2 separate regions of the Homo sapiens genome follow, and region 2 is linked to region 1. A link means that fine-mapping ties the variant in region 1 to the expression of a gene that starts in the linked region. Tissue or cell type: whole blood. Region 1 holds a variant in brackets; the other region holds the start of a gene. All regions are shown on one strand. Distances are from middle to middle.

What was found. PIP is the estimated chance that this variant, and not a neighbour inherited with it, causes the effect.
Region 2: ADAM15 starts here. The variant in region 1 is fine-mapped to the expression of ADAM15 in whole blood (INTERVAL, PIP above 0.99).

What each region holds. Positions count from the first base shown.
Region 1 is chr1:155,468,588-155,473,587 of GRCh38, reverse strand. The region is part of intron 3 of ASH1L (ASH1 like histone lysine methyltransferase); the gene reads left to right. Among named protein-coding and RNA genes, the nearest start is that of ASH1L-AS1, 91 kb to the left of the region's middle. The variant T/C (reference allele first, on the strand shown) is at 3,090.
Region 2 is chr1:155,048,266-155,053,265 of GRCh38, reverse strand. It overlaps ADAM15 (ADAM metallopeptidase domain 15), which reads right to left and starts at 1,950. Exons shown (of 23, transcript NM_207197.3): 1 at 1,801-1,950; 2 at 489-595. The coding sequence starts at 1,879. DCST1 (DC-STAMP domain containing 1) reads right to left here. Exons shown (of 17, transcript NM_152494.4): 17 at 2,336-2,649. The coding sequence ends at 2,398. It overlaps DCST1-AS1 (DCST1 antisense RNA 1), which reads left to right. Exons shown (of 4, transcript NR_040773.1): 2 at 3,905-3,997. It overlaps ADAM15-EFNA4 (ADAM15-EFNA4 readthrough), which reads right to left and starts at 1,950. Exons shown (of 26, transcript NR_176418.1): 1 at 1,801-1,950; 2 at 489-595. RefSeq lists a silencer at 1,786-2,245 and an enhancer at 2,716-2,775.

The DNA of each region.
Region 1 (5,000 bases):
GAGTTCAAGGCTGCTACTGTAAGCTGTGATCGTGCCACTTCACTCCAGCCTGGGCTGGCAGAGTGATACTCTGTCTCAAAAAAAAAAAAAAAAAATAGAAATACTACAATAAATATAGGCATTAACCTTCCAGGAAAAGATGAAGGTCGCTTGTAGGGATATAAAGAAGGGTTGAAGCTGCTCAACTGTAGGCACAGAAGGATGTCATTGGTAGATAAATGTAGCAATGCCAGACATAGCTGGTTCTAGTGTATTGTACCTGTTTGTTTCTTTTGTACAAACATTGAGAGAAGCCACACAATAAAAACACTTGCAGAAAAGTCTGTTGCCAGTAGGAGCCAAGAGGAAGAATGTGGATGAATGTACATTTTGAACAGAACTACATTGCTTATGGCTTTCTTCATTTAGTTTGTGTTGGTGTACTCCTTCGTTCAGCTGCTAGTTTTGTCCTGCAAAATATTTATGTGCTTTAAAAGTCATGTATTAACCAATACAACTTCCATATTCTGGTATCATTCTTGTATTTATCAATGATACAAGAGCTATTTAACTATATAGAAACACATACAATAACAAAACATACTGTATACCTTTGTGAATTTTTATATGTATAATCATGAGAGTAATGATATTTTCCTTGGGAGAGAATAGGGAGTGAAAAACAAACAGCCTTGGGTAGCTCTGAGGAACTGCAGTATTTAAAGTAGTGCTTAAAAAACTGTCAGCTTTTGGCCCACATGTGATTCTTTGTGATGATCTCTACACTTTTTAAAAAATTGCTCATATTAAAAAATGTAGCAATTTTACATAAAAATGTGGAATTCTGCTTCTCAGAAAAATCAGAACATCTGGCAACAATTAGTCCACATTTCGTGGATAATAGGGATGGCTGGGGCTCAGTATTGGCAGGCCCTTTTTCATTGCTGCTTGTATTCTTTTGTTCGCCACAGTCCTCACTGTTTTCTGTTGTGTGTTGTATCTGGCCCTCTTCAGCTATTTAAAGAGGGAACTTTTGGATTTGAGATCCCTAATTTCAGAGTCATGAGAAGGAGATTATAAAGGATGAGTAAATTGAGGTGAAGGTGATATGAGATGACAGGTTAGGATGTTGAATGTATCATCTACATGGACATTGAAATTACCCAAGAGGACAGTTACAGAAGTTGGGGTGAAAATGGTGGATGTGAACCTGGTTTCAGGGTCCTTGGGGAATGAGAAAGATAGCAGGGAAGTTTATGCAAAAGTACCTGTGTTAAGTACGAATTTGTCTTTTTAAAAATTTCCTTCTTTATTTATTTGAGATGGAGTCTCTCTCTGTCATCCAGGCTAGAGTTCAGTGGCGTAATCTAGGCTCACTGCAAAACCCGCCTCCTGGGTTCAAGCTGTTCTCCTGCCTCAGCCTCCGAGTAGCTGGGATTGCAGAAGTGCACCACCACATTTGGCTAATTTTTGAATTTTTTGTAGAGTCGGGGTTTCACTGTATTGGCCAGGCTAGTTTCAAACTCCTGACCGCAAGAGAACCACCTGTCTCAGCCTTCCAGAGTACTGGGATTACAGGTGTGAGCCACTGCACTTGGCTTTTTTTCTTCTTTATAAAATAACATACAGAAACCACAAAGACCTCTCTGAAGTCACTGCTCTGACACTAGTTCTCTATCACCAATTGGATGTTGTACAATTTAGTTCAATTCTGAATACAAATTACCTGAAGCTAGTGAAGACCTCAAGTTAAGAGCAGAGTTCATCATGAGACTGCAGATGCCAGTCACAAATTTTGGTGTTCCTGAGACATCCATACTTCTGCCTGGCCTGCTAAAAATTTGCAACTTCGTGCAACCCCCTCAATTTTGGTAACTTGTTAAAAGGACTCACAGAACTTGTGAAAGCACTATAGTATGATTACAGTTTTGTTACAAAGGATGCAGATCAAGAACAACTAGTTGAAGAGATACATAGAGCAGTGTTTGGTGCAAGAAGGGTCCACAGACCTCCATGCCTTTCCCCTTGTGGAATCCGGGCACATTGCCCTCCCAGCACATCACTATATTCACCAACCTGGAAGCTCCAGTGAACCTCAGTGTCCAGAGTTTTTATTGGGGCTCTGTTAGGTAGGCCGGATTGATTAGATCATTGGCCATGTTTTTTAATTCAATTTTCAGTTCTCCACTCCCTTGAGGTTGGGGTGACCCAAAGTTTCAGATTTTTAATTATGTGATTTGGTCTTTCTGGTCACCGGCCCCCATCTTGAAGTTACCTCAGGCTTTCATCTCACTGTCGTAACAGAGACATTCCTGTCACTTGGGTAATTACAAGGGTTTTTGAAACTCTGTGCCAGGAACCAGGGACAAAGACCAGCTATATTCTTTACTTGATCATAAGTCTAAATTCTTTTGTTAATTGTTCTCTATCTTGGAATCTCTCCATCTTCTTCACAATTACTGTTGATAAGTACATGGAGATGTGACTTGATTTTCTAATAGAAACTTAATATACTTTTTTCAGGTAGATGTGAGAATAGGTTTAGTTGTCTTAACAAAAACCAGTCGAGGAAAAGTTTTTAGTTAAGCAGAATACTAAATAAAAATATTAATTCAGGCTCAGATATCTTTTGTTTTGATCCCTTTGAAAGTCAGAACTGGTTTTGTTTAGGAGTATTTTATGTATTTGATTTTTATTCTTAACTATTCCCTTATGATGGTAGCTGTTCTTTCAGCAAACAGTTATTTTGTGCCTATTGTGTGCCAGGAGAAGGAACATGCTGTAATTCCAGCACTTTGGGAGGCCGAGGTGGGTGGGCCACTTGAGGTTAGGAGTTCGAGATCAGCCTGGCCAACATGGTAAAACCCTGCCTCTACTAAAAATACAAAAATTAGCCAGGCATGGTGGCACATGCCTGTAGTCCCAGCTACTCGGGAGGCTGAGGCACAAGAATCACTTGAACCCAGGAGGTGGAGATTGTAGTGAGCCGAGATTGCACCATTGCACTCCGGCCTGGGCAACAGAGCGAGACTCTGTCTCAGAAAAAAAAAAAAAAAGGTAATTTCTGCTTTAAAGTTGATTTATAGTTTAGACATGTATATGAATAGTTA[T/C]TGACAGTTTTTTTTTTTGTTTTTTTTTGTTTTTTGTTTTTTGAGACAGACTCACTCTGTTGGCCAGGCTGGAGTGCAGTGGCACAATCTTGGCTTACTGCAACCTCCGCCTCCCAGGCTCAAGCAATTCTCCTGCCTCAGCCTCCTGAGTAGCTGGGATTACAGGTGTGTGCCACCATGCCCAGCTAATTTTTGTGTTTTTAGTAGAGACGGAGTTTCACCATGTTGACCAGGCTGGTCTCGAACTCCTGACCTATGGTGATCCACCCGCCTCGGCTTCCCAAAGTGCTGGGATTACAGGTGTGAGCCACCGCGCACAGCCTGACGGTTCTTAATATTGAGATACTTACAAGGCATTTTGGGGAGCAGAGAAGTGAGGGACTGACTTTAAAGGTCTTGGGAAGGAGGAGGGAGTTTTGAATTTAGCAGCGAAGAATAATGTGTGACACGTGTTTCTTACACTAGATATCAGCTTTGCAAGGGCATGGGGATGTGTTACTGTGCTTAGTTAAGTGTTAATGGTTTGATATGGGACCCAAGAGATGGGACTGGAAAGATAGGCAGATCATAAAGTCCTCGTTTATATGAGACTCCCAAGAGTATAGAGTTTACTTTATAAGGTATGAGAAGTTAAGGGTTTTAAGATGGGGAATAATTTGTTGAGATTACATTGACAGCAGTGTGATAGATGGATTAGTGAAAAGAGATCAGGTAGATCAGTTTGGAAACTGCTCCCACAAAATATTATGAGGCTCTTATTATGAGGCTCTGAGCCAAGGTAGAGATGATGTGATTAAGTGAAATGAGATATGCAAAAGGATAAGGTTGGAAATAGGTAATAAATTTGGATTTCAAGCCTGTTTTGTAGGACAGATGGATCTGTAGCTCAAAGGAGAGGTAAAACCTGAAGATAATTATAGATACTTTATTATTAAGGCTATGAGAAGGAATGACAATATTTATGGTGAATTCAGTGGGTTTCTTAAGTGAGTTTATTATAGTCAAGAGTGTCAAGTGGGTGGACGTGGTGGCTCACGCCTGTAATCCCAGAACTTTGGGAGGCTGAGGCGGGCAGATCACCTGAGGTCGGGAGTTCAAGGCCAGCCTTACCAACATGACGAAACCCCATCTCTACTAAAAATACAAATAATAGCCGGACGTGGTGGCACATGCCTATAATCCCAGCTATTCAGGAGGCTGAGGCAGGAGAATTGCTTGAACCTGGGAAGTGGAGGTTGTGGTGAGCTGAGATCACGCCATTGCACTCCAGCCTGGGCAAGGAGAGAAACTCCGTCTCAAAAAAAAAAAATTAATTAATTAAAAAAAAGAGTGTCAAGTGTTATGGGAGATTGGTTAGGTAAGTACTGAAAGTGGATGATTGGCTTTGGCGGTTAGTTTGTCTTGTGTCTGAGAGCCATTTGTATAGTGGCAAATGTTAGATTTCTGGAGGCTGAGGAATGGAAGTTAGGAAATGCAGACAATTAAAATTCTTACACCTTTACATTTTGCTATTTTTTCCTCAGTGTTTTCTTTTGTAGCACTTCTGACTGGTTTATTATTTGCTTTTTCCTTACAATGACATTGTTATTCTATAGCATTCTGTTGAAGATGTAATTACATTTTCTCAATCTGTGATGTCAGGTTGCTTTTTGAAGTATAAAGGTTTAAGAAATACATAATTACATATGATTTTTAAGTGATCTTCTCGGTCTTCAGTTGATTTTTTCCATATATAAATTTAAGGTAGATTCATTTTACATTTGGTATCATGTTAAAATGCTCCCAAAACTACCTACTGTATAATAGGTATTGCAATATTGTTGATCACCTTCAGGATATTATTATCCTGAAATGTCTCCCAGTGGTCCAAGCTGGGACAGTTTGAGCAACAAAATAAATATGAGAGGATTG
Region 2 (5,000 bases), 420 kb after region 1:
TGGAGCATTGTTCTGGGGGGTTGTGTGCGGAGGTCAAGGAAGGTATCTGAGCCACCCCTTCTCGGCTTCCTGCCCAGAGAGGAAGCACCGTGTAGGACCCAGCACAAGCCCCAGCCCTTCCTCTGACTCAGCTTTAGAATGGGGTGGGGGGGGGGGGGTTTGGTAAGGTCCTGACTCTTTCCAAATCCCCCCACTGAGAAAACCGACAACATGAGATGAAGAAAGCAAGTTTGGCTTCACAATTTCCCCAGTGGAGATGGATGGGTTGGGTGGGGCTGAGGCAGACAGATACACGTGTGTGCAGAGGGAGAGGGAGATAAGTGAAGCCAGGTGCTGGGGTGTGGTGGGAGAGGCAGCTGGGCCTGGGATAGACCCACTACAGTGAGCTCTACCCACCAGCTCCTCAGCCAAGCTTTGGCTTTGAGACACCTGGCTATACCGGGGCGTGTGTGGATTCGTTTATTTATTAGAGGGGAGTGAGAGCTCACCTGAAGCACCTTTTTGAGGCTAATTGGGAGATCGTCCTGAAGGACCTGGGGCTCCAAGGGCTCCCTCGGGGCCTTCTCTGACTCTGCCTGCTGCTCCTCAGTGCCACCTGCAGGTCCCAGGACACCCCAAGACAGTACTGAGGGAATCGACAGCAGGGCTGGGGGTGACAGGTGCCCTCAGATCCACCAGCTCCCAGCCCATCAAGACCCTTAGGTACCTGAGGGGCTTCCACATTGCATGCTGAGACTTAAAGAAGAATACTGGAAGGAGAGGGTGTCTCTCTAATTTATGGCTTTCCACCCACCAACCCATTCACAAGTCCCCAAGAAAGACTTTCGGCTTGCGCAGCCTGTGGCCCTCCTTGTCCCCTTCCGGCCAATCCCAGGTTCTCACAGGACCCTCCCCGGTTCCCACTCCCTCCCAATCACTCTCCCCCCACTTCAGGAACGCCCCCTCTCGAGACTGAGCTAAGCCTTGTGGCCGGGTGCCCGCTCACCCTCCCCTTCGCTCACATCGGAGATGCCAGGAACGCCCATTTCTGGGTGAGCAGTGCAAACACCCCCACCTCCCTAAACACCCTCATGCCCAGTCAGGCACACCCGCTGCCTACAGCCTCTGCTTCCTCCTCGAGCACCCCCCACCCCCCCAACACACAATGGCCCTCTCTCCTCCGGACACTCCACCCGCGCCTGCCCTCTCGGTCCCGGCCCAAGACAGCAGCGGGAAGTGAAAGTTCCAAGGAGGAGTTGGTGTCCCAGCCTCTTTCCTGGCCAATTCTCCCTTCTCCTGGCTCATCTCGGGCCCCTCCCGCTCGGCCAGGCACTGGTGGCAACAGCACCAGGGTGAGGAGTGCCTGGCGGCCCCAGGCCTGGAATAGAGGCTAGAGAGAATCCTCTTCACTAAACCCTACAAGCCATGCCCGCTCAGCGCCCTGGCACCGGGTCGAACGGTTAGCTAGGCCCCAGAGCAGCGAAGATGCCAGTCCTGGGGAGCAGCGACCCTCTCATCACGATCTTGAAGTGGCGCTGGACAGGCCCCTCGGTACCTGGTACCTGAGCCTGAAAGTGTCCGCAGGGACCGCGCAGAGGATGACCAGGCAGGAGGCAGGGGGCGCCGGCATCCCCCCTCCTTCTCTTTTCACCCCATCGCCAAGTCACCGGGCCCTAGGCCCAGGACAGCGGACCAGGGCGGGCCGCGCTCTGGCTGGGCTCTCCCAGGGTCTCCGTCCGGCCCCATTACCCTAATGCCTTCCGACTTTCCTGCACCTCCCTCCCAGTCCGCCCCCCGACCCACTCCAGGCGGAGGACTCACCTATATTTGGGAGCGGCCAGGAAGGCAGAGGGCTGCCCGCGCCCAGGAGCCCCAGGGCCCAGAGCAGCGCCAGCCGCATGGCAGCGGCGCTCCGGGCCGGGCGAGGGCAGCAAGTGCGGAACAGCGCGCGGAGGAGCGGCCGGCGGCCAGGTCGCCTCGGAGAACCCAGCAGCGCCGCGCGGCCACCAGGCCCCGCCCCGGCCCGCCCCCTCCCACCCGGCCCCAAGCCAAGCTCCGCCCCCGGCAAAGCCCGCCCCGCTGCGCGCCGGGTGCCTCGGGAGCGGGGACACCGCCCACTACGCCCGCGCTGCTCAGCGCTACCGCTTCCCCGCAACTGTGCGGAGTGGGAGCCGGTGCCCGGTCCGACCGGCTTGGGCGGCGCGCCTTCACCCGGCGCCAGGTCCGGACCCCTCCCTAGTAGCTTCGCGGCCTCCCTGCCTCCTGTGCGCGGCCTGGCTCGGAGAGGTCGGGCGGGCAGGCTTTCCCGACTGCAGGCGAGGCAGTGCGCGGCTCACCCCAGTCCCCGACCCACGTGAAGCGTACAGGGCATTTTATTAACCGGGAAGGACGGTGCGGAAGAGCGAGCAGGACGCCTCTTCACCCCGCGTAGGCAGTGTCGTCGTTGCTGTCACTAAAGGCGGAGGAAGAGAGCTCTTCGCGGGGCGTGCAGACCGGGCACCGCTGCCGCATGTCGTCCCAGCACGACCAGCAGTACACGGCCTCGCAGTCCAGCGTCCGGCACACGTAGGACTCGGGCGTCTCGGGTGCCTGGCACACCACGCAGCGCCGGCACAGCCAGCGGCGCAGGAGCGGGCAGCCGCGGTGCAGGATATCCGCCAGCGGGTGGCGCTGTTGGGAGGTGGGCGTTAGCGCCAGCCCGGGAGCGAGGCGGGAAAGAAGGGGAACTGGACAGCGTTTCCTGTCTGAAGTCGCCAGGCCTGACAATTCCCGCGTGTTGGAGGAGGCTGGGTTGGACAAAGGAAACCCCTGGAGGGCGAGGGTGCCTCCCTCCCCAACTCTGTGATGGAGAATGGGAGGATGCACCCTCCAGGCTCTCTCCAAGCGGATATCAGCCACAACTCTCATTTGCACTTTCCTGTAAATCATCTTATTTGGTTCTCACAGTGAGGCTGAGAAGTGAGCAGGCCAGATCGACTATCACTGTTGCTATCCCCACTTTACAGTTGAGAAAGGTGAAGTGACTCTCAAAGTCACACAGATAGTAAACAATCCAACTTGGCTGGACCCCAGGGGCCCTGATTCCAAACCACAAACCTAGTTCACTATGCTCCCTGCCATCCCTCACGACATGTCTCTACACAGTTGTCAGGGATTTTCCACAGGCCACCTTACCCAGGAAGCAGCCACTCTTTGCCCAAGAAACTCCAGAGGCCCTGCTGCCTGCCAGACAGGCAGAACTCTTGGGCTTGGCCTTCAGAGCCTTCCCTCACCTGGTCCCTTTCTAGCCTCTTTCCTACTTTAGCCCTCCCTGAGAGCTGTCTCTTCTGAGCCAGTTTCTCCTGAGACTAGCCCTGGCACTTCGCATTCCCTGTGGACTGAGTCTTTGCACATTCTGCTTGGAATGACTGTCTGGCACATTTCCATCTGTGCATTCACATTCAGTTTGCTTCACGACCCTGTCAAGGAATCCCAGCATGTTCTTTTTTGTTTTTTGTTTTTCATTTTTTCACAACACATTCATTTGGCCCCTATTGTGTGTCATGGGGGCTGGGGGTATCCAGGCCCTAGGGAAAAAGCTAAGCAAACACAGTCTCACTTTTATGAACTTTGTTAGGACTGATTAAATAAGAATGGCTGCCACTCATTGTTTATAATGTCAGGTCCTGTACTAAGATACTGTACATAAATTATTTCAATTCTAAATTAGCCGGGCGTGGTAGTGTGTGCCTGTAATCCCAGCTACTCGGGAAGCTGAGGCACGAGAATCGCTTGAACTGGGGAGGTGGAGGTTGCAGTGAGCCAAGATCACGCCACTGCACTCCAGCCTGGGCGACAGAGTGAGACTTAGTCTCAAAAAAAAAAAAAAATTCAATTCAATTGTCATGTAAGGCAGATAGTGTTATTATCATCTCCTTTTTTTCAGGTGAGAAAACTGATGCTTGGAGATGTGATCACTGCCCAGGGTCACCCAATGATAACATGCATGCATATGGAACTTGCTGCATGCCAGCACCATGTAAGTACAACTCATTTAATCCTTAAAACAACCAGATGGAGTAGTTAACCCCATTTTATGGAAGGCAAAAGCCCAGGCACAGCAGTTAAGTCATGTGCTCAAGGTCACACCGTTGTCATAGTAATGAGGGAAGGAGCCGGGATACACACTTAGGCCCTCTGGCACCGGAGTCCCACACCTGACCACCACTCTAGGCTGATCTCCAGTGAGCAGGCCTTACAGATCTCTCCAGTCTTGCCATTCTTCAGAGGGAGAAACTGAGGCTCAGTGAAGACCTTGGCCAAGGTGACACAACTTAATGAGGGAGTATGGACTGGAGTCTGCTTCCTCAGATTCCATGTGCCTTACCATGTGCCCCTGCATGAGGCCTTCCTGACTCCCAGCCCACCTGCCTCCTCCTGTCCCTTGAACTGCACTGAGCTTCTGGTCTGCAGCCCTCTGGTAGAAACTTTGGTTTTGCCTTGGGCCTCCTGTTTCTGTGCGGCCCTCTTGCTTTTCTATGAGCAGACTGTATTAAATCTCATTCTCCTTTTCTGCCTGCTTCCTAATGGTCCACTGAGTGTCTTAGGCTGGGCTGAATCCTGGGATTCAGAAACGGGCACAGCCCTGACCTTAGGAGCTGGATGGCTGGGGCCCTCAGCATGTGTTGCATCAGATTACACCGGGCTTGGCTGGGCTTGGTGGCTCACGCCTGTAATCCTAGGACTTTGGAAGGCTGAGGTGGGCAGATCACCTGAGGTCAGGAGTTTGAGACCAGCCTGGCCAACATGGTGAAACCCTGTCTCTACTAAAAATACAAAAAAATAGCTGGGCGTGATGGCGTGTGCCTGTAATCCTGGCTACTTGTGGAGTGGGGGGCTGAGATAGGATAATCGCTTGAACCTGGGAGGCAGAGGTTGCAGTGAGCCGAGATCGTGCCACTGCACTCCAGCCTGGGCGACACAGTGAGATTCCATCTCAAAAAATAAAAAGAACTTACCAGGCTCGAGTAGGCCTGCGACCA